Linked DNA regions of Homo sapiens: regions 1 and 2 are each linked to region 3. Evidence: fine-mapped expression QTL. A gene starts in region 3. Each other region holds a variant in brackets. All regions are shown on one strand. Distances are from middle to middle. Region 1 overlaps DSE (dermatan sulfate epimerase). Region 2 overlaps DSE (dermatan sulfate epimerase). Region 3 holds the start of CALHM6 (calcium homeostasis modulator family member 6).

Region 1 (8,000 bases), 39 kb after region 3:
TGTTTGACTAGCTATATTATTCTGCAAATTAGTGTGTGGCTTGCATTAAGCAGGAAGCAAACAAAGGATCTTTCACAATCAGAATTCTAAGGAATTAACCAGAAAACCCTTCCCATCTGTTCAGGATGTATTTGAGTAATCTCCAAGTGAGGGAAACAAATCAAAAGTGTGCTGTACCTGTGGGAGGTAGAAGAAAGCAATTAGGGATGAAGCTAAAGCTTAACATTTCTATGCCATGAACCTCTTTTGGCAATCTAGTGAAGCCTTGACCTCTTTCTCAAAATGTTTTAAAATTCGTAAGACATAATATGTAAGGATACATGGAAATCTATTATTTTGAAATATAATTATCAATACACATATTTAAAAAATAATAATACAGGCTTTTTTAAATTAAGGCATGAAATACCAACATTTAATAGCAGGGATAATAACTACTATAATTTGTAAGTGGTAATAAGCATAATTTTTGAGATGTCTATAACAACTGTAATGTGGTAATGAAAATATCTGTGATACCTACCTGTAACTTTGTTACAGATCCTCCCAATACCATCAAGATTGGTTATCTCTACTCATGATTGGAAGAAATGTTGGATTTCAGTTAAAGTTAGTAAAAGTTAAGATGTATTAGTTCTCTCAAACAAACCTCATAGACCTCAGTTTACAAATACTTTAAAATGTTCTGAGAGACTACCTCTTCCAGATTATGTTTTTCCTTTAGAAGTTTATGCTAAAGAAATGGCCTAGGTGAGGCCTTCCCTGGTCACCCTATCAGAATTTCATCATCCTCCCAAAATAATATTTAATTCCCCTTTTCTTTTTTCCCTTTAGTAAATATATGTATGAATATGTCTATGTATATGTTTCCCCTCCTAGAATTTAAGTTCTACAAGGGCAGGACTTTTTTCTTCACTATTGTATTCGCAATTGGATCCCCAATCATAGAACAGTGTGGCACACAGCAGATGCTCAATAAATATTTTCAGAAAGAAGGAAAAAGTGAAGGAACAAACCTGTAACTCACTGTCAGCCACACTGCTGGCAGTGATTATGTGATCATTATGGAATCAGGAATTTGGAGAGATCCCTTTATATTTAGTAATAATTTCAGCATTTGGTTACCATTCGGTGTTTGGTGCTAAAAAGACTAGTGCTAAAAAGATTGATGAGTTTCTTAGCAATTTAGTAACAGACAAAGCTCCCTTGCTCTAGCCAGTCAGCTTGCCAGTGTGTGTACTGTTTGTAAACAGACTATGAGAGTGTGAATGAATTCTCTACTTCTAGGAGAAAAACAATTCATACTGCACACTCATTGCCAGGGAGTTGGGAATATCATCTTCACTGACTCATGGTGACTGGTGGGCCAGGCAGGGAAGCCAGGTCATTTGTTTCCCAACTTGTGTCATTGTACCATGTCATGATGCATCTATAAATGGCACTATATACACCGACCCATGATAAAGCTGATGTCAATGAATTGCTACCAGCCAGTAAACCCTCACATGTGTGATTAACCAATAAGCTTATTTTTATAGATAACCAGAACATTTGATATAATTCTCATCCTTCATGAAATGTTATGCAAATTTCTGTGAAAATGTCCAAGCCCCAACCTGCAGTTTGTTTATTTCAAACAGTTTCCAATTCAATGTAACACTGGCGCCCCAAAAGAAAAAAGTTTATGGCACCTTCAGGTCTGTCCCTATATCATTAGAAAAGCTGACCTGTAATAGCTGTATTTCTAAAAAGTTATCTAAATCTTTCACCAACACGATCTTACCCAGCCTTAGATACAAAGTGAAATAATGGAAGAGACTATATTTTACAGTCATAAAAACCAATGGAAATTTGCTCTTAGTTCATGGATGGCAGCTGAGAAACTATCTTATTCAATGTGATCCTGACCAGTAATAAATCAGTTCACTGTGAATGGTGGTGAAGTGGGAAATTATTTTTTAAAAAAACAGACAGACATTAATTTATGAATTGTGCTTCAACTTAAAATATATCCATGTGTACACAGATTCACCAATCTTTTGAAGGTGAGCCAAAACCTATTCTCTGAATATGGGTCTACAGATGGAGTTTCATTGTTCTTTCCTGCAAAGAACACACATAACACATCACCACAATTTCCAGCTTTGTTTTCTTTATTATATAGGAAGAAATTAAAGATACCTGTGAGGGAACGCAGAAGCCTTCTAGATTTTTATGAGTTTTTCCCTAATCTTCTACAAATCTCAATCACACTATATCATGACAGCAATTTTTTACAGTAAGTTATTCCAAAGCTTTTAGGTTGGTTCTAGAAATATTAGCTTTTTCTTTTTGAACTCACACTTTATCTATTGGTATTATTAAAACTGTCTCATTACAGGTATTAGGGAAACTGTATTACCTGGTTTGAGAACAAATACAGCTGACACTTGCTCAGCCGGTAACTCTACTGGGGGGAAAAGAAATAAATGTAAAGTAAAGGGCAACCTACAAGTCCTGACATTCAGCTACTGTGTTACACAAGGAATGGAAGCTGGGTTCACTGGCAAGTTAGTTAAGAGGAGGTTAACTGAGGAAATATTTACACTATTCCTCTTTTGTAAACTACAGTTTCACCCCTTAGAGCAGCTGTTCTCAAAGTAAGGCCCAGGGAGGGGCTTCCGAGACTATTACATTTTAGAGAATTCACAAATAAGAATCATTTTCATAATAACGTAAAGATGTTATATGTTGATATTTGCACTGATGGTACAAAAGCAGTATTAAGTAAAACTGCTGTAACCTTAGCAAGAATCCAAGCAGGGGCACTAAACTGCCCTAGTAGTCCTTGTATGATTTTGCACTGCCATGCACTCAGGTTTTTGTTGTTGTTGTTGTTTAATTTTTAAAGCCAATTTTATTTAAAAATGTCCTTGATGAAGTGGTAAAAGTGATTAATCTTTATAAAATCTCAACTCTTTGAGTATACATCTTTCTAATATCCTATGTGATTAAACGGAGTACCAAAGTACAAGAACGTTACAAACAAAAGAAGTCATGCACTGAGTTGAGAGCTGAGCTAGCTCGGTTTTTTCATGAAACATTTTTACATGACAGAATGATCAACTGACAAATTATAGTTATCTCAATTTGGGTGTTAGCACAGAAATATTCTTGAAAATAAACAAGGAAGGCCTGCCAGTTCAAGGAAAGCTGAAAGCCTTTGTTGCCAATGACAAACTTGGAGCTTTCAACTGGAAATAAGAATTTTGGAAAATTTGCATCCACTACCAAGAGCTTAAGAGCTTACCAATACTTAAAGATTTTTCTGATGAAATCAGTAAGAACATCAACAAACATGATTTTTATATTGTATAATTAAAT[G/A]TGTCAACATTCGGTAGACTGAAATAACTCAGTGAACACACATGCAAAATAACAAAGGCATGATGTTATAAAACCATGCACCGATAAGACAGCCACTCCTAAGTGTAAAATATGCCAATGGATTTTAATGTAAAAGAGTATGAAGAGTTCATTAACATGGCTTCAGATTCTATACTGAAATTAATTTTTATGGAACCACTATCAGTCAAGTTTTAGTGTAGCGTCAAAGAAGAATATTCACAATTATTTGAAAAGATTATTAAAATACTCCTCCCTTGTCAATCACATATTCCTGTGAGGCTGGATTTTCTTCACATACTTCAACCAAAAAAACACATAGCAACAAATCAAGTGCAGAAGCAGACACATAAGATTTGCAAAGATGTAAAACAACACCTTCCTTCTATTTTTTGTTTTAAAAAAATATAGTTTGGCTGGGTACAGTGGCTTATGCCTGTAATCCTAGTGCTTTAGGAGGCCAAGGTAGGAGGATTGCCTGAGCCCAGGAGTTCCACATAGCAAAACTGTCTGTACACAAAATAATTTTTTAAAAATTAGCTGGGCCTGGTGGCATGCACCTGAAGTCCCAGCTTAGGAGGCTGAGGCAGCAAGATTGCTGGAGCCCAGAAGTTCAAAGCTGCAGTGAGCTATGACTGCACCACTGCACTCCAGGCTGGGTGACACAGTGAGACCCTGTACCTAAAAAAAAAAAAAAAAAAAAAAAAAAAATATATATATATATATATATATGTATATATAGTTATTTTTTCCTAAAATATGTTTATGTTAATATGAAATGAGCTTTGACAATATATAAATATGAGTAAATGAACAAATAAATGTTTCAAACTTCTCAGTTTTAATTTCTAATATGGTAAACTTTGATAGATACAGCCCAAATAAACAAAGCTGTTTGATGTCCTCATTAATTTTTAAGAGTACAAAGTGCTTCCAAGTCCAAAAAGTTTAAAAACTGATACTTTGAATATTTTCAAAGGTGAATTTATATGAAATAAATTAATCTGAACACAGGAAAGAGCTATTGATTTTCTGAGTGTAAGGGTGGAATGTTGGTGGGGAAAGGCATAGAGTTTGGTCATGATGTGCTGTGTCTATGAATTAAGTTGTGATTCTGAAAGGAAGAATGAGCCATAACTATTTTTCCAAAGTTGAGCAGTCTCATTAATCCAAATTTTTGTACCAATTTTAAAGGGATAGACTGCTTCTATTATCATAAATGCTTTTTAAAATATTATGTATGGAGTATAATAGTTGGCAATCGAAGAAGTCTGTATCACTAAAAAGGTGACAGTTTATTTGATTAAATAACCATTAAAAGGAACCCTAAAAACAATGTTGCTATCTATTTTTATTGGTATAGATTTGAACTGCAAGTGATTAAATGCTTCTATTTTTAAAATTTTCATATAGTTTTGATATAGACAGTCTATAGAAAATAACTGCCTGTGAAAAGATTAAAATTTAACATTGCAAGGTTCACAGAATATTATTTAAATTTGTATACTGTTGTCTTAGCCCAGGCTGCCATAACAAAATGCCATAGACTGGGTAGCTTAAACAACAGAAATTTATTTTTTACAAGTTCTGGAAGCTGAAGGTCTGACATCAGGGTGCCCGCATGGTCAGGTTTTGGTGAGAGCTCTGTTCCTGGCTTTTAGAAGGCCGCCGCCATCTTACTGTGTGCTCACCTGGCCTGTCCTAGATGTATGGTGTGGGGATAAGGCAAGCGTGAGAGAGAGTGCACAAGAGTACAAGCTCTCTGGCACCGCTTCTTATCAGGGCACTTATCCTATCATGAGAGCCCCACCTTTAGGACCTCCATCTAAATCTAATTCTCTCCTATAGGCCCTTTTCTCTAAATACTTCCACATAAGGGGTTAGGGCTTCAATATAAATTTTGAGGAGGGTCCCATTCAGTTCATAGCAACTGTCTATTTAATTTACACAAATACTGCTAAAATAAACACTTACAATAAAAAGAAATTAGGTCTTTGAAAACAAAGATGTGCCAAGAGATCACTCATACTTATTTAAATTAATCAACAGTATACAAGAAACAAATACTAGAAACAATAGAACTCATAATTCCCTTTATAATTAATCCTATTTCCTAGTACTTTTCAGAACCTAACAACTTTATAGCAGGCTTTTCCATATGTAGCTATGCTCCAAAGATCACAATTTGATCCACAGTATAGGCAAATCTACATATTTTTTAAAGTGTATTTAAATGAGACTTTATGATTTGTCAGACCTTTCCAACAAAGGAGGATAACTCCAATAAAATGATCCATCTTCTTTTTCTCATTTTCAGAATAACTATAGTTTTACCAACCTATAAAATATTTACTTCGTAAATTCATAAAGTAGAAGATTTGCGTTTAAAATCTGATTTTATACAGTAGATAGTTATGGAACTACAAATTTAAGTTAAAATGAAACAAGCTTTACAAAAATTATAAATTTACATTCAGAACACAACAGTGAACTCCTTAGAAATTGCAAACTCTAAAAGTACCAGGGTAGTGCACCACCAGCTTCCCATTTGCCAGCTTTGCTGCAGCTGTGTCTACTGTACATATGCCACACCTCTGTCCACGTGCACTTGGGCACACCATTAAAATAGGCCAGAATTAGGTCAACTCTATTTTAAAAATGTAAATTATTCTATTCATTCTAAAAGTCTCCTGAACACAGTAACTTGATAGAAAACCATTTAACTTTCAACCAAACACCTTTGTGTGTTTGGAAACAAACTCCAATAAGTTAAGACAGTCATGTATTACCACTCCTTTTAAAAACATGACTAATGCAGTAGTGATTCATCTTTTTTCCCTCCATTTTAAATGTGAAAACTAACCATGAATGTTAAATGTTAGTAATATGTTAAATTTGGTATGGAATTCCTATAAATGTAGCTAAAGGGAAGTGGATTTCTCACCTCTGAGGCCTCATCTGTAAAGCACATTGGGTCTTGGCAGACATCTGCCAAGAGGACCAGATTAAGCCTGAAAGATAGAGACTTGATCTAGGAGGCTCTGAGTGGGTAGTCAGCAGTCCAAGGGGAATGTTCAGCTAATCTCTGGCCTGGCTTGGCGTCCATATTCCAAGTGTTTGATCAGGTGGCTAAAGGTTAGCACTGGCATTGTGAAGCAAAATGCACAGGGAGGGAAAGGAGAGGGGAGTGTACTTCATATTAATTAAGCACATGTTATGTGCCCAAGCCTCTAAGTACATTGTGTCATTTCATCTTCTCAACTCAACATTAGGTATTCCGTCCCCATTTTATAGGTTGTGAAAAAGCAATTTGGATAGGAGATTACTTGTTCAGAGCCACACAGTTAAACAGTGAAGCTGAGAATGGAATCCAGAATTATCTGAATTATCTGAATCTAGAATGGTTTTGCCTTCTTAGTGAGGGGAAGAACGGCGCTTTCAAAGAATGTCACCAAGTTTGCAATAAGAACTGAGCCAGAACATGCCAGAGTCAGTGGCTCTACCAAAAGCTAGGCAGAAGGGTCCAAGGGTTCTAAGCCTTGCCATTTTCATGACAGCAAGACAGAGCAAGGCATGAGATCTGAGAAAAGGGGCACACATTAGAAGAAGAGATACTGCCATTCTGTGCTCATGTGGTTGCTCAGGGCCCACCCAAGGAACATGAGACACCAATCATGTAGATTTCCTGAACAACTCTTTCCCTCCCTGATGAGCCTGCACACCTAATGTACTACTCTAAGGTAGAGTTGGTCCAGGGGATGGTGGTTCTGGTTTGCATCTTCAGAACCTTGGGCCCCTTAAGGTAGTAACAAACACTCTCTTCGTGATCAAACCCTAGCCAGGCTCCTCTGTGCCTTCTTGGCTAGGCCTCAACCTCATTCCATGAAGAGTAAACACTAACAAGTTTCCAATACCTCAAGGTCATATCCCTGAGATGACCCTCTCCCTGTTGAAAGTGTCTGCCTAAGAAACTCAAGGCTTCCAGAAAAATTTTGTTTGTTCCTGTCAACATTTGAGGATAGGGTCTCTGTCTTTCAGTCTCTGTGGGAGGATAGAATTCTACCCTCGATAATTGCCACTTAGCAGATGTGTGATTAGCTGGCCTAATCACATGTACATTGACTACCCTTTGTAATTTTTCTCTTTCCTGGCTCTACTAAGCCCCTGCTTGCCCTCCTCCCTTTAAAATGCCTATTCACCTCTGTACAAATTGACGTTCAGTTCAGTTTATGCTGAACTCTTTTCCTACTGAAATACTTACTACTGATTAAAACTTATCCTTGCCACTTTAGTGTCCGGTATTGTTTACCTTTGACACTGGCCAGGGCTAGAGTACACAGAAATGGACAATGAGCTTTCCTTTTTCAATATCTACTTTGGGAACAAAACTACTTGCCCTTTCTGGAAACAATTGCTAGAAGGATGAACGGTATGACAGAATGGGAACTCATTGTATATTAAGACTTTTTCAGGGAAAATAACTTATTAGCTCTGAAATGTAAAAAACTATTTCCTCTTACAATCTATATTTCTATATTAATTAAATCACTGGATTTAATATAGCAGTACATTACCACTTAATTTCATTTTAATGCTGTGAATTCAATATCCCAAATATT
Region 2 (8,000 bases), 64 kb after region 3:
ATAAATGTGTATTTAAAAATTGCATGAGTAAAAACATCTGTAGAATCCCTTGTTTAATCAACTCATCCCATATCTGTTTGGAAGCATATGAAGCATTAATTATAAATTAATCAAATAAATTTAAGCTAATCGAAAAGACAGGAATTTGTTCTCAAATCTTAAACTTCGAAACTAAATTATTATGTAGTTAGAATTCCTCACACAATTACACAATAATGTTGGTTTTCCTACAGGTCTCAGAAATCTGCTGGTTATTGGAGGGGATGTGTTTATAAATTGCCAGTCAGTCCCATCCCATTCACATTTAGTTCCTTACGATCATAAAATGCAAGTAAGTCTTAATTACTTGAAATGTCTTGCTGCAAAATGTTTTAACTACTTGGGATCAATCAAACCTAACACCAGATGATAGTAATATATACATGCTGAATATGGAAGAAAGAATTCTCAGCAATCACGATGATACTCTTTACTCAATTCAGCAAATTATTTTTTCTTTAGATTAGGCTGCATCTAAATATTTTCCTTCTAACTTTAAACATGGAAGTTACTACATCTTTTGAAACTAAGGGCCATTCATAAGACTGGCAACACAAATAACAAATAACACCTCCCCCCACACACATACACAAAGAGGTACATGAAGATCTGGCCACTGAGATGTCATATGGATTTGTTTCTTTCTAATGCAGAGTTACCACAGTAAGAAGAACAAGACAAAAATCTACCAACTAGGCTGCGCTGCCATCCTCTCCATGTAGTCTTTGGCCATGTCTCGGGCTTCAATGTTCTCAGGATACAGCACACAGAACATTGCCAAGGCACCCAAGTTGTTTCCAAAAATTTCATTCCAGCGGGCACTGTAGTCCTTGGGATCCCAGGGAGGGAGGTATTCCAAGGGGCTGGACAGCATCGTGTGCACAGCCTCCGTGAGGCGGGCTGCAATGTGCTCGTGCGAGCTGGCAGCCCTGAGCTGCAGCTCCGCCACTTCTGCCCTGGAGAAGTACAGCATGGGATGGCTGTCGTAGTTGGCATTGGTGAAGGGAATCATAACTTCTGGGTTCTCGTCGGTGATGTAGGCTGACACAAAGCAAAGCAAATATATGAAAAACACACTGGGAGCCCCCCGTGTGTGAGTCCTCATCGTGGCATCAGATCTCCAAATCTCCAAGGCAGCCAAACCATCTTCGAAAGATCCTACGTGAGATAAAAAGGAAAAAAAGTGTCTGTCAGCCAAGGGAACATGGCACAGGTGTGGAAACATATAAGAGGTAGAAACCATATGTGAAAATAAAGCTTATGAATTTAGATTTTTAAAAATACAACAAAAAAATTTAATTAGGAAGAAAATTACTAAAGTTCTGATTTTATAGAGTTAAACATACTACATCAGAATTGTATTCATTATGGAAAACAGAATTTTGGACTAAGGGAAAATGTATAATATTTGTTCAAGTAAGGAAAAAATTATTCTTGGTATTCTTCTCACATAGTATCATGCAAAAAACATCACATGGTATATTTTTTTAGACATTAATACATAAACCACAATAACCAAAAGCTGGTAATGAACAATCATCTGGGAATCTGAGTAGACATTACAAAAAACCAGAAAATCCTGTATTTCTTACTACAGCCTCTTTCACTGTAACTTATCTCCTTTTCCTAACATTTCTGAACCAGGGATTAGGATCAATACATCTGTAAGCAGACAAAATATTATGAATAAGGTTAAATATCCTCTTTATGTGAGCAGAAGGTGGAAAGAGAGAAGACAAAGGCCATGTAAACATCTGCCAAGCCCGTGTATTTCCTGGGCTGACATCAGCAAGCATGTAGTGAAGACCAAACACAGTGCCACTGGGACCAGAAACTGACATGCCTTCATTCAGAGAATAAAATCCCAGAATTAAAAGGCTGAAATAACACGGGTGCATTTTCCCCTTATTATCTGAAACTACTGTCTACTTTTTCATTTGGCATATGGGATTTTGGTGTCATTCAGTAAGTGAGAAATGTAAACAAAGTTCACATATTTTCTTAACTACTTGATTTTTCTTCAAAGCCCCTTTTTTCAGTGGCAGATTTGTGCACTGGTTAAAAGAACATCTTTCAAATGTAGAAACACTAAAAAAAATAAAATAAAATCCCCAAAACCTCAGCCTAGTCAATGTCCCACATCTGGGATAAAGCAGGCAGAAAATCCCTCAGAGGAAAGTCAGGGAATTCTTAAAATTCTTAAGAGGGGAAAGGTTATAGAAAGCAGACCAGAAAAAGACAGTTTTATGTAAATAACGAACAGTGGTTTTCAATTATTAAAGGGAGAAACTGATGGTGGAAAATCAACCTCCCAAGCTGAACACAAACTGTTTTTCCAAGGAAAAACTGCCTCATCATATTTAGAAGAAGAAAAACTAATAATTTAACAGATATGGCAGATCAATCCACATTTTCAACTTGCTGTGTGTGTTTCCAAGAAAAAGGCAATGAGACATCATTTGAGGGTGCTACCTTATTCTGGAGTTTTTTATATTTCTACCTATATATGAAACTCGATGGCAGTGGTTTTGGTTTTGTAAAACATTTTACATTTATTTCAACAGCAGAACTTCTGATGAATAAAAAATTAATATAGCCATACTAAATAAAACATATGAAATAGAAATAACTCTTGGACTCTGCCAGTATTATGTCTAGCACCCAAAGTCTCAAGGCAGCTGGCAGGCTGGATCCTTCAAGGTCAGAGACCCAGCCAAAAGAAATAGTCTTCTGTGGTTATGCCTGAGGAGGGGTGTGGTCTCTGGCAGCACACAGAAATGGCTGGGTCTGAGGTAATGCTCAGTCCCCCCAGGGGCTTATTCCTTGCTCCATTTAGAGAACAATATACCGGCCAGGCACGGTGGCTCATGCCTGTAATCCCAGGACTTTGGGAGGCGGAGGCGGGCGGGCCCCTTGAGGTCAGGAGTTGAAGACCATCCTGGCCAAAATGGCGAAACCCCATCTCTACTAAAAATACAAAAATTAGCCAGGTGTGGTGGGGGG[T/GT]GCCTGTATTCCCATCTACTCGGGAGGTTGAGGCAGGAATCGCTTGAACCTGGGAGGCGGAGGTTGCAGTGAGCCAAGATCCACCACTGCACTCCAGGCTGGGTGACAGAGAGAAACTCTATCTCAAAAAAAAAAAAAAAAAAAAGAAAGAAAGAGAATAATATACCGCTAACGATTAAAAAAAAATCCTGTATATATTAAGTCCCTAAAAGTCTAAGTCTGAATGCTCTCATCAATGCAATCAGCATTGTGGGGGTTTTAGACACTTTCTCCTTTAACTGAACCCCCATACACACACCCAACGTACATGCAGTGAAAGATCCCTCAACTACCAGCTTTTGAATGTGTGGGAGCTCAGGTGGATAGGGGAGTGGCTCCAGCTATGAGCATATGGGTAAGAAGGCATTAATACATGGAAACTAGAATTTTTCCATCTCACATTCTGTACAAACTTCCCCAAACGTGGGTAAGGTTAATTCATCATGTTCTTTGTCCTCCCCTATGCAACCACACTCCCACCCAGGCACAGAATCACTGTATATTCAGGACTGCTCCGAAGAGTCCCTCACACTGTGGGGCCTACATGCCTAACTCAGCAAAACTCACAATGTGACCCCTGCCACTTCTGCCACATTGCTTCCAGTTACGTAGGATATGTCTGAATATATTTAAACCAGAAAAGCTGATCCTGAAGCATAGAACCTCATTAAGATGTTGTTTTGGGAAGGATGCCATCTCAACATGCCAACTGTTATTGAAGGTTCTCTAGCTATTACTTTGAATTCGTGCAAGGGAGTCAGAGCAGCAAGGTTGTGCATTACTGTACATTTAAAATATTAATTTCCGTCAGAACACCACGTTAGCCAATGCAGAACCCATAGAGATTCTGCAGAACAATCATCTATGAAGACTGAGGAGAAAGAACCGTGGCATTCTCAATACCACAAATGGTGTACTACCTTCCCCATGCCCCACTCAGTGTGCTCAGCCCCCAGTGCTCTCCCAGCTATTAAGGCTTTTGTTGATTCACCCAAAGAGTTGATCTCTCTTGTATCTGGCACATACCTATATCACACCGGACTGTTTCGGTTGTTTACATGCAATGCCTCACAGAAGGTGAGAACCTTCTTCCTCTATGTATCATGGAGCTTAGCACTGAATCTGGCTTTTAAAAGGCAGCATGCTGGCTGTGCTGAACCAAATCCCTGGGCTTAGCTGTTGGTAGAGCAGACCTCATCAATAAAATAAGCATGGAGAAACTTTGTTCCCCCTTATTTGAAGCCAAGGAAAGTGTGGAACTTTCCAGAAAAAAAGTCCCTCTAGGAAACTAATGGGAGAAAACACGTATGAAGCCTAGAAACTTATGTAGCCTAAAAACTATCCACTAGTTTAAAAAGAAAAGAAATTAAATCTAACTAAAATCTAAACCAAACTTGTTTTAGGCTGATAACCTAAAAGAGGAAGTAATACCCACCCATCATTTTAAATCTGTCTAGAAAATTTCACTGAAAAATCTCTATTTCCAGTCATTGAGTTTTCTCTTTGACCTTCCACTCTAGACATTGTGTGTGCTCATTGTACAAAGAGAAGAGCCAAAATTAAATGAAAAGAGTGTTTCAAGATAATTTTAGGTGGACCAAAAATGGACAGGCTTTACGTTAATTTTACGTACTTATTTTAATGTGCATTATGAAAAACTATACCACATCAAACCTGAGATTTCTACAGATATGCAAAACTCCTGTTTAAAATATATTTAAATTTAAAAGTAAAAAAAAAGTAAATGGATATGGCAAAAATTGTTGAAGGTGGTACCTGAATAACTATAGTTTGAGAGATGCCAAAAATGCTTACCGAAACAAAGGGCATTAAAAGCTAATGAGTTTATGGGAATGGTCAGCCCCAACCCTCCCACTTTCTTTATTTTTTAGACGGAGTCTCGCTCTGTCGCCCAGGCTGGAGTGCAGTGGCCCGATCTCGGCTCACTGCAAGCTCTGCCTCCTGGGTTCACGCCATTCTCCTGCCTCAGCCTCCCCAGTAGCTGGGACTACAGGCACCCACCACCATGCCCAGCTAATATTTTGTATTTTTAGTAGAGATGGGGTTTCACCCTGTTAGCCAGGATGGTCTCGCTCTCTTGACCTCGTGATCCACCCGCCTCGGCCTCCCAAAGTGCTGGGATTACAGGCGTGCGCCACCGCGCCCAGCCAACCCTCCCACTTTCAACACTATGAAACAAACACAAACACACACACTATCTCAAAATGTGCCTTCTGTCCTGGAGAAATAAGTCTGAACTTCAAGATGTTTGTGCATGATCTCTCAAGCTATTCACCCCCTACTTCATTGTGTTTCAAAAACAGCAGAGCACTCCCAGGCCCTTTAAATCTTTAAGTTGCACTTCGCCCAGTTCAAGAGCATAGCATTTTCAACATGGCAAAATTACCAGCGACTCTCAGCAGCTGATGCTACTAATAAGTACTTTATCTACAACTCAATTCTCAGGCTGTTTCTGAATGATTCCATTGAGCATCATGTCCCCTGAAATTCTCTTTTTCCTCTTTTAACTCTACAACTTTCATGATCCACTTTTTCTTCCCATTCATTTGTCTTATGTCACACAACTTGGATAGTAAAACATTCTTAAATCTATGAGGTAGGAGGATCAGTTGAGGTCAGGAGTTTGAGACCAGCCTGGTCAACATAGTGAGACTCCATATCCACAAAAATAAAATAAAATAATAAAAAAATTAGCCAGATGTGGTGGCATGTGCCTGTAGTTCCAGCTACTCGGGAGGCTGAGGCAGGAGGATTGCTTGAGCTCAGGAGTTCGACGCTGCAGTGAGCTATAATTGTGCCACTGCACTCTAGCCTGGGTGACACAGTGAGACCTTGTCTTTAAAAAAAAAAAAAATCACGCTGTTACTGCTATAATTCAGATAGCAATTTGATCATCTCTCTGCCTGTATATATTCAGCAGTCCAAGTTTAGCATTACGTGTAGGCCAAGCCACGTGAATTATGAATTACAATTACCTTAAGCAGATCTTTATAAAGCAAAGATAGGCCCCAAATTATTTTGCTGTAATTCTGGTTCCAACAATCCACTGCAGCTATTATGATTCAGCAGTCACACAGAAAAACTTCGTTTCTGTGATCCTAAATGCTTTTCACATATTTGATCTTTTACTCTTCAATAACTTAATATAGCAAAATAGTATTATTTGTTCCACAATAAATTTCAGAGAAAGAACTAGAACTTGCACCTCCTAAATCCTAAGCCAAGATTCTTTCCTTTAACCAAACTAATTTGTGAGAATGTTCAATAACATTAAAAGTTCCATTTTTTTGCCATCCTTACACAAAGAAAGCACAGAAGAATATGCTGAGAAGAAAAAACTGAACACTAAACTAGTACATCAAGTTTCAAAAAAGATTTGGGTTTCAAATGATCTGGGACTGTTTATAGAATGAAACAAATGGTAGTACAAAAGTTCTTTCAATTCCACAGGCTTCAGAAAACAGAGAAAGTATAAGGATGGGAGAAAGAAATCACCCTGTAGAGAGTAAAACATGCCCCAAACTAAGATGGATTAAAAAACCCTCTTATAATATGTGCCAAATTTGAGGAACACAACATAATGATTAACAGTATGGGGCATGGAGTTGGGCAGACAAGAGCATAAATCTCAGCTCTGCTGCCTCCTAGCTTTGATCAACTGACGTCCACTCTCAAAACCTCCCTTCTGTCATCCACAAAATGAAATATGCTTCATGGGGTGATTAGACATGTGTGATGCACTTAGCATAGAACATGACATGAAGAGCTCAATAATATTTATAAAAAGGAAGATGTTTCAGACCTGCAAGATTATACTAACCTATTGATAAAATATTTTATTTGAAAGAAACTAAATCTTCATACTTTACAGGTAAAAATATAAGAACTATAGATGTTAACTGACTAGGGCCAGATCATACTGCTTATTAGAGACTTAGTTGAAATTGGAACACAATGCTTCTCACTCTTCAACACATCACTCATAGTAAGCTCATCACTCACTGGAAAGGAAAGTATACGACCCTTTAAATTTTTCAAGTGTTTGTTAGAGGTTTTGCCCCAAAGAAAAGAATAATAGATTAAATGAGCTATTAACTAAATTTTCTTCCTAGGGTCAGTAATTTAATTCTTCATATACAAAAGGCGACCACTTCTTTTTTCTCCTTTATTCTGTCAGGAGAAAGGCCTGCCGATCTAACAGCGACTGGGAAACACAGTCCCTGGCTGGAAAGCTGTTTCTTAGTAACACATTTATATTACGGAAGGAGTACATTAAAATTTAGGGGACACCTGCTGCCACTGCAAGGCGGATAGGTTAACCTCAGTACAGGGTCTGGTCCTGGCTCCATCACTGCCATCAGTATCTCAGCTGATCATCCTGGAGATGAGATGCTACTTAATGTTAGGCTTCCCTACCTCTCACATATGAAAAACCAGAATGTCAGCATATTCGTTTACCGTCAAGCAGATTGGGAAATATTTTCTGACTTCACAGGAAACCAACACAGGAAGTGAATTATTAGATAACTGTCTGGTGAACAAGTAAAGAATCAGAACAAAGGCAATGGGAAAGGCCCTGAACTTGGGGCAACTTGACCAGTTAAGATCGCTACCATAACTTCATTTGAAGGAGGCTGCTGAAATTGCCAGCAGCTGTCACAGATGTCCTTGGGGGTATCATTAAAGACAAAATTTTAAAAACTGAGTTGTAATCATATTTAGAAAACAAGAGTGAAATGTACATCCCCTATAGCTCCTGCCACCACACCCGCCAAGCTCAGCCTAAGAGCAGCTGCTCCAGTTTGCTCAACTTAATGGATGGGCCCCATAGTTAGTTACATGATTAGGAATAATCCCCCACACTAGAACCAGTGTGCCCATATCCATGGCAAGATTGA
Region 3 (8,358 bases):
CCCTTGCTCATTTTTTTCAGTCGCCTTTCAGGTTTCCAACTCTGCTAACATCTTTTTCTCCCTAGTCTTTGCACATACTGTTCCTTCAGTAGGACTGAAATGCTCCTTCTTGCTACCCTACAGGATTCAGTTTTCAAAAAGTTTCCTCAAATCCCTTCTCCCCTAATCTAAATCAGGTCACAATTTGCATTTCTTTGTATGGTATTGGTTTTATCTGTATGACTGAAATGCTCCTTCTTGCTACCCTACAGGATTCAGTTTTTAAAAAGCTTCCCCAAATCCCTTCTCCCCTAATCTAAATCAGGTCACAATTTGCATTTATTTGTTTGGTATTGGTTTTATCTGACTTCCCAACTCTGTTGAAGCTGTGTAACAACTACTTGGAGGCTCATAAAACTATCCTCTCTACTTTTGTGTTTAGTTTATATTTACCATAACATATAAGCTTTAACACTTTTCCTCTGATCCTATAAACTAAAAACAACACTTGTTGCCTGCAATTCTCTTAACTACTTTTTCAAATTTCGTATTTTACAAAGTTTATTTTCCTTTTCATGATTAATTTATTATTGTAACCCTATTAGAGTCATAAAATGCTCTAATTTTTGAATGACCACAGCAGGCTCGACTAGAAGCCCAATGTGCCATCAATTGTGCTATAGAACCAGCTAGAATGCCGTAATTTTAAAGTTCCTAACAAGATGTTGTGGGCAAGAAAATGAACTTGAAATTAACATCAGATAACCTAACAGAAATGTCTGAAGTTCAATTGTTCTGCCACTGTTTTTGCTCCAAAAGTCTTTTATTTGAAAAGGACTCTAGAACAAGGATATAAGACTTCTTTTAGTTCTAGCTTTTACTTTGGATGAATCACTTTCTTTTTTTGTTTGTTTTAAATAATATTATAAAGAGGTTAAGCTCTATATTTTAATTTCAGATATAAAATTCCACAATTTGGAAGAAAAAAAGCACTCAAAAAATACCAATGTTTATTTTTTAATAAAGCAATAATTCAAAACAATTTTTTTTTCTACTCATTCAAAAGGTCATAACTCAGGAGTGCTGTTTATACCAGATGAATCTACAAAGCCAAGAACAGGAATCACCGTATCTCCTTCAGTAGACCTGATACTGTGAGTCTTCTCTTTTCTGTTGACATATTTGTGCAACATGCTGTAGTACTGGCCCTTCGGATTGAAAGTATACAGTGATGAAATTTGCTGCCACTCTTTCATGCTTGGAGTGTTATATTCTTTTGGATGCGAGCCCTCAAAGAAACATTTAATATTCTCTTTTGCCAATTCAGTTGCATGCTCTGTGGCTTTACTTTTAAGGATCTGCTGCTCCTGTTCCAAATAGATTTTCCAGAATTTCAGCTGCAGAAAACTAACTGGAGATAGGCATCGGGTGACAGATGTAAAAATCAGAAGAATGATGATAACAACTGCTATCAAGATCCAGCCCAACACCTTAAGAAAACACAACAAAATAGTAATTTAGTTACTTGGTTTTTTACAAGAAATTTAAAAATCCTCAGATAAAGTTTCAACTACTCGCCAGTTATGATGATGAACAAGCAACAGTTTTAGGTCTTAATTCCTTAAGAGTAAGGTGTCGCAGTAACCTCCCTAGCCCCCCAGTACAACTTCTCGTTTGGAAAGTCAACTGTAGTCCAAGTTATGCACTATGATTCTGCCCAGGGAGGAGCCCATACCATTCCCTTAGAACTCAAAATGTGGAATTTCTGCAAATCCTGGGAAAGAAGTGTTCATTTTAAAGAACCTCTGAGCTTTCTAAGTCCAGTGGTGGCTTTAGAGCCAGACAAACCCATTTTATTCTATAGACCCCTTTAATTCTAACAATTCTGCTTTCTATTGGCTGGGCAAACAACTTTACTTAGACTCAGTGAAGTCACTATATAGGGGAGATACGAAACTATTACTTGTAATGGCAAAACCGCAATTTTGCACCCAACAGAGCTGTTGTGAGACGTAAAAATAATGCAGGAGGTCAAGGGCCTAGCGCAGTATCTGGCACTGAGTAGGCGTGCCCACTCTCACTCCCACTTTCCACGATTCATGTACAGTGCCAGATACTACGGGAATGCGTTTTTCTCCTTTTCATTCGTTTTATTCAGATATTCTCTTGACGGCAAATTAGATGCAAGGAGCCATTCTAGATTTTCTTAGGGTACTGTATATCTGGAGAAAAGTCACCGATTTTTCCCTCACCCCAGCGGCCCTGAGAAAGCTCGGCCTCTCGGCTCCTCCCAAACGCCCCCAGCGCCAGCGGCAGACCTGCGACTGAGCCTTCAGATCCTTCAGGAGGTCCTGCACGTCCGACGCCTTGGCCTGGTTGCACGGCACCAGCGGCAGCTCCGCGGCGCAGCTGCGGTTGCGGCCGAGGCACAGGCGCTGCGCGAAGGCCGCGCTCCCGGTGGCCGCGCACTCGTAAAAGGCGCCCCCGAGCAGCGCCACGGCCACCCAGGTGAGGGGCGCGAGCGCGGCGGCCGCGCTGATTTGCGTGCACACCAGGGAGCCGCGCAGCGCCGATCCGCAACTCGCGCGGGCGCTGGAGCAGCATCCGGTGAGCAGGCGCCACGTGCGTGCGCTCAGCACGTAGCCCAGGAGGAAGAGCGCGAGCGCCGGCACCAGCAAGAAGACCAGGCCGTAGGGCAGGTTCCAGGCGGCGCTGCACGGGCACTGGAATGCCACGGCGGAGAAGATGCGCTCCCCGCCCGCCGTCAGCAGGGTCACCAGGCCGTAGCCCAAGGCGCTGTGGTGCTTGACGTGCAGGTCCAGCACCGCCCGAAACTTCTCCATGAGCCTCGTCCCCCGGGGCGTCGCGCACAGGCCCAGATCCTTCTGCCTCTTCGTTGTCCTGCTTGTCAAATGGTTTTGGTGGGATGGGGACCGGGGCTTTCCACTCTGCGAGAAGCAGCCTTTTTTTTTTTTTTTTTAAAGGGAAGAGGGCTTCTCAGACCTTCCTAAAGTTTCACTTTCTCATTTCAGCCACACCACCTCTGGTTAACAGAACCAGGCAAGCAAACACCCCCAGGACCTTGACTTCTCTGGCACCCACCCCATTCCAAAGGCAGAGGCACCAGTTATCTTCCTCCCCCAATTCAGGAACTCTGACAGAAGGTTGACCTTGTTCCTTTATTACCACCAATCTGACAACGAACCAGGAAACTAACCTTCTTGACCCACGGCCGCCAGTTGGAAAAACTGGGAAATACCAGATTTTCCTCTATTGCAGCCACCCTAGTTACTAAGCCAGATCACAGTAAAACCAAATAATTATCAAAAAACTGATTACTTACGGGAAACATTATTCAAGGACAAATTTCTGGTTCCTCTTCCATAAGCTAAATCAGCAAAGTCCAGCTCAAGTTCTGGTACTTCTATGATGGGCGGCACCCTTTCCATCTCCCTACCGGACAGAGCCACCAGCCTAGTTCACACTGACTCTTCTCTCCTCTGCCTGATCTCCTTCAGGACATTAGACCAAATATACTGTATTGATTTACTCGTCAATACAATGTTCTTTTCTTTCAGATATGTCATAACACTGTCAATGCCTGGAGGAGAGTAAAATTCTGACTCTGACCACCAAGCTGATCTGCACAGAAGGGGATACATGATTATTCAAAGAATGCTAGTTGAACCCAAAATTTCAAACTGCAGCTACATCTATCTAATGTTGTTTCCTCCACCTTCAGTTTTCTCAAGCAGCGTTGTTCTGACACAAACACTGTAACCACTTTTGTGATATTGAGCCTTACTCTGTGTGACTCCAGACTGAGCTGAGGTGTGCTTGAAAGAACATGGGCTTTGAAGTCAAGTGCATCTTGTCTGTGGTGTGTTTAACAAGTATGCCCCTCTGAGACACAGCATCCTTATTTGTAAAAGAAGGATAATAGTGCCCACTTTTCAAGATTACTGACATGAGTAGATTGAGTAGCATATGTAAAGTGCCTTTACATATAGGATATGTCTGTTAAATGAATGATCAGTGTGAGAGTTTTCCCCTTAAAATGCAATTTGGGGAATAGACAACAAATAATTACATTGTACATAACCTAAGAATCTTGATGAATACTGAATTTTGAATTTTAAACGAGGATCAATTCAGTGGATAGTATTAAGTGACTCAATGACTCTGCTACCTTAAGAGAATTGGTGTACACCTTAGCTGTCTGCTTCACCACAAGGAGAGTATCTGGATATGGAGCTTGGGTGGGCAGTTCACAATGAAATGGTTCTTATTGGTGCCCATCCACCAGGCTTGCCTTATTTTATCTGGAAAGAATAGGTAGCCCATGGAACCAAGTGAATTTTTAGAGAATGGACAAGAAATGTATTATTCTTTTCTTAGTCCAACTTGCCTTCTTAACTACTCCCTCTCCAACACCACCAGCAGGGTGCCTAGCGTAGTGCCAAAAGCTGTCATTCCATAGTGATGTGGTAAATAGACATCTTTTTTCTATGTGTTTAGGGGCCAGCCCCAGATGAGGGTCTTCATGGTCATGCAGGAAAGTTGGGGCCCTCTTCTCTGAGATTAGACCAGATACTGCTAGGCTTCCTGTCAACTTGCAGCAAAGTTGCGTGTTTGAAGCGAATCACTTCTGCTCTGACTGTTATCTTTGTAATTTGTCATCTCCCAAGATAAATTTCTTCCCCTGTGCCTTGAGTAACTCTCCTCTTACTGCTGGACTCTTCTTCACCTCTACCATAATACTCTAAGATGTGTCCTCTCTCGTCCACCCTTTCCCATATTCCATCATGCAGAAACATCACTATATCCACAACCTTTGTGCAGATGGCTTTATCCAAATCTCCCCTAACCGAAACCTAATAAAAATGCATCCTTCTGTCTTCTTGAGTGAGATTAATTTATTCTCCCACATCTCTCAAACCAAGAGGGATGGCTGGCATTTTCCTGGTTACCTGCTGATAGCCATACCAGGGTTTTACCACTGTGCTATAATAGTTTATCATCCACTGAGGCTCAATCTAATCAGCACCATCTCCTCCTTCACCTCATTCCTATGGTCTGTTTTCATTCCCTTCATTTTTTAAGACTCTAATGAAGTCCATCACCTTCTCTTCCCTGGCTTCTGTTATTTAGTCAAGGATTTGTTTGAAATATGTTTACTTACAGAAACTTTTATCTATCAGCCCCCTTCCCCAACTAGATTAATTCATTTGTTAACCAGTTATTAATTAGTTCATTTGTTCATTCAGTCATTCATTTAAATGTTTAATAAGTACTCAGAATATGTCAAGTACCTATCAAAAGTGCCTGGTATTGCTGGATACAACAAGGAAGAAGACACAGGTATCCTGCCGTCTTTGAACTTACAGTAGAGATGATATAGGAAATGGAGAGGAGGGGTCCTAAAGATTACGCACAGGATAAATTGGAGTTAGAGAGTGTCCTGAAAGAGCCTCTGTGAGAAACTGACATTTAATCTGAATGAGTCTGGAGTACAAAGGAGCTTGGTTAGAAAGAAGGCTAGAGTGATGGGAGCATTGAGAATGACAGGCAAGTTGGCACATCATGAGGCCAAAGCTGCAAGTGGAAGGTCAGGTTTAGGTGCTTCACAGACCAGAATATGTAGTCTGCAATTCTGCCTCTGAAACTTTCACAGACTGAGCTGCATCCTGACATATTGTCTTGTCAGCTTGTGTCTCTAAACACCACCTCCTGGGTTTGCTACTTCTGTGCTCTCCCAAACCCAACTCTCCCAGATGCAATGATCATTCAGAACTTAGTACAGGTTTCTATAATTGAGAGTCCAGGTTTTGCCTGCCAGCCTGAATGTTTCCCCAGCACTTGGTCTTGAGTCTAGTACCCTGCCATCCACTCCCACCACCACTGGATTGACTGGTTCTAGCTCTGGGTCTATTGAAGATTCCCAGCCCTCCATACCCAGGTCTGTTCTGAGAGGATATTGCTCAGAAGTTCAGCCCTTAGTGGAAATTGACTAACACCCTAATGGTGTGGAGAGGTAGACTAAATAATATTTTAAATGTCTTTACACTTTTGAAAGCCTGTGATTTGCTTCAGCTGTTAAGAAATGAGTAGTAGAATGTCATCGGTAAAGCCTGAGTCCTGTCCTCTTGCTCTCCTCCCTGGACAGTATGAGCTTCACCACTTGCTCCACCTTCTCCACCAACTACCATTCCCTGGGCTCTGTCCAGACACCCAGCTTCATCGCCCAGCTGGTCAGCAGTGCAGCCAGTGTCTATGCAGGCACCCAGGACTCTGGTTCCCGGATCTCTGTGTCCCGCTCCACCAGCTTCTGGGGCGGCATGGGATCCGGGGGCCTGGCTGCAGGGATGGCCAGGGGTCTGGCAGGGATAGCAGGCATCCAGAATGAGAAGGAGACCATGCAAAGCCTGAACGACTGTCTGGCCTCCTACCTGGACAGAGTGAGGAGCCTGGAGACCGAGAACTGGAAGCTGGAGAGCAAAATCCGGGAGCACCTGGGGAAGAAGGGACCCCAGGCCAGAGACTGGAGCCATTACTTCATGACCATCAGGACCTGAGGGCTCAGATCTTCACAAATACTGTGGACAATGCCCGCATCGTTCTGCAAATCAATGCCTGTTTTGCTGCTGATGACTTCAGTGTCAAGTATGAGACAGAGCTGCCCATGTGCCAGTCTGTGGAGAGCGACATCCATGGGGTCCACAAGGTCATTGATGACACCAATGTCACTCGGCTGCAGCTGGAGACAGAGATCGAGGCTCTCAAAAAGCAGCTGCTCTTCATGAAGAACCATGAAGAGGAAGTAAAGGCCTACAAGCCCAGACTGCCAGCTCTGGGCTGACCGTGGAGGTAGATGCCCCCAAATCTCAGGACCTTGCCAAGATCATGGAAGACATCTGGGCCCAATATGACGAGCTGGCTCGGAAGAACTAAGAGGAGCTGGACAAGTACTGGTCTCAGCAGATTGAGGTGAGCACCACAGTGGCCACCACTCAGTCCACCGAGGTTGGAGCTGCTGAGATGACGCTCACAGAGCTGAGATGTACAATCCATTCCTTGGAGATCGACCTGGACTCCATGAGAAATCTGAAGGCCGCTTGGAAAGCAGCCTGAGGGAGGTGGAGGCCTGCTATGCCCTGCAGATGGAACAGCTCAATGGGATCCTGCTGCACCTGGAGTCAGAGCTGGCACAGACCCAGGCAGAGGGACAGCACTAGGCCCAGCAGTACGAGGCCCTGCTGGACATCAAAGTCAAGCTGGAGACTCAGATTGCCACCTACCAATGCCTGCTGGAAGATGGCGAGGACTTCAATCTTGGTGATGCCCTGGACAACAGCAACTCCATGCAAACCATCCAAAAGACACCACCCGCCCAATAGTGGATGGCGAAGTGGTGTCTGAGACCAATGACACCAAAGTTCTGAGACATTAAGCCAGCAGAAGTAGGGGACCCTTCGAGGAGCAGGAGGCCAATAAAAAGTTCAGAGGTCAAAAATAAAAAATAAAAAGAAATGAGTAGTAGAGTCTCACATTAAGCACAGTGTAAAGCCAATGGTTATGGGTTCCCTTTGGTTTCCTTTAACTGTAGTACTTTTTCAGCACTATCATTTTCAATGTCAGGAATGGGTTTCAGAAACCACAGAACATTTCTTGGAAAAGGAACTTCTTGAAAGGAAATGCACATACACACTGTGAATCTGAAAGTGTCTTGCAATTGTCTTCATGTGTGCTAGTTCTCAAACATTGTTCTCTGCGGCTCTCATAAGAATACAGACTAATGGCATGACCCTGCTTGGAATATGACTGCTGGATTCTTATACAACATTAATCTTGGCCCCAAGACCCTCCAAAAAGAGTAAAATCAAATTAATATTCAAATATCTTAGGTAACATATGCAAGAAGAAATGCCAGATGCCAAATTAAAAAGTTAGTTTACAAAATCTGACACTCCTAGTCTTAAAGGGAATATCTTTCTGAATGTTAAAATTTGTGGATATATTGCTCATGTTAGATAACATATTTGAAAATCTGGAACATGCTGTTGTCTTCAGATATTTTAAACGTTTATAAAAGTTTTTTCCAATGGAAGTGTAAAGCAGAAGGAGGGAAAGATCAGACCCTTTCCTTGGCACAGAGATGTCATTTGTTAAATGGCAATCCCATGACATTTCAAAAAAGCCTTTTAAAGATTTTTATTCCTCTCTTAGTGTGAATTTCCTAAGCCTATCACAAAAGTTTAAGTACTTATTGATTAACACACTAATTTTTGTTCTTGCAGCAGATAGTTATTTTAACTCTGTTAAAAGAAAAAACATAGCCAAATTAAATCTAACAGAGTTTAATTGAGCAAAGAATGATTC

What was found. PIP is the estimated chance that this variant, and not a neighbour inherited with it, causes the effect.
Region 1: its variant is fine-mapped to the expression of CALHM6 in whole blood (TOPMed, PIP 0.99).
Region 2: its variant is fine-mapped to the expression of CALHM6 in whole blood (INTERVAL, PIP above 0.99).

Annotation. Positions count from the first base shown.
Region 1 is chr6:116,417,556-116,425,555 of GRCh38, reverse strand. The region is part of intron 2 of DSE (dermatan sulfate epimerase); the gene reads right to left. Among named protein-coding and RNA genes, the nearest start is that of CALHM6, 40 kb to the left of the region's middle. The variant G/A (reference allele first, on the strand shown) is at 3,364.
Region 2 is chr6:116,392,395-116,400,394 of GRCh38, reverse strand. DSE (dermatan sulfate epimerase) reads right to left here. Exons shown (of 6, transcript NM_013352.4): 2 at 729-1,197. The coding sequence starts at 1,144. Among named protein-coding and RNA genes, the nearest start is that of DSE, 25 kb to the right of the region's middle. RefSeq lists enhancers at 443-943, 944-1,444. The variant T/GT (reference allele first, on the strand shown) is at 3,043.
Region 3 is chr6:116,456,394-116,464,751 of GRCh38, reverse strand. It overlaps CALHM6 (calcium homeostasis modulator family member 6), which reads right to left and starts at 3,377. Exons shown (of 3, transcript NM_001010919.3): 1 at 3,323-3,377; 2 at 2,298-2,880; 3 at 981-1,469. The coding sequence starts at 2,822. The coding sequence ends at 1,047. CALHM6-AS1 (CALHM6 antisense RNA 1) reads left to right here and starts at 1,048. Exons shown (of 2, transcript NR_174951.1): 1 at 1,048-1,133; 2 at 3,558-4,274. It also overlaps the pseudogene KRT18P22. RefSeq lists a silencer at 2,312-2,391 and enhancers at 2,772-2,851, 2,862-2,971.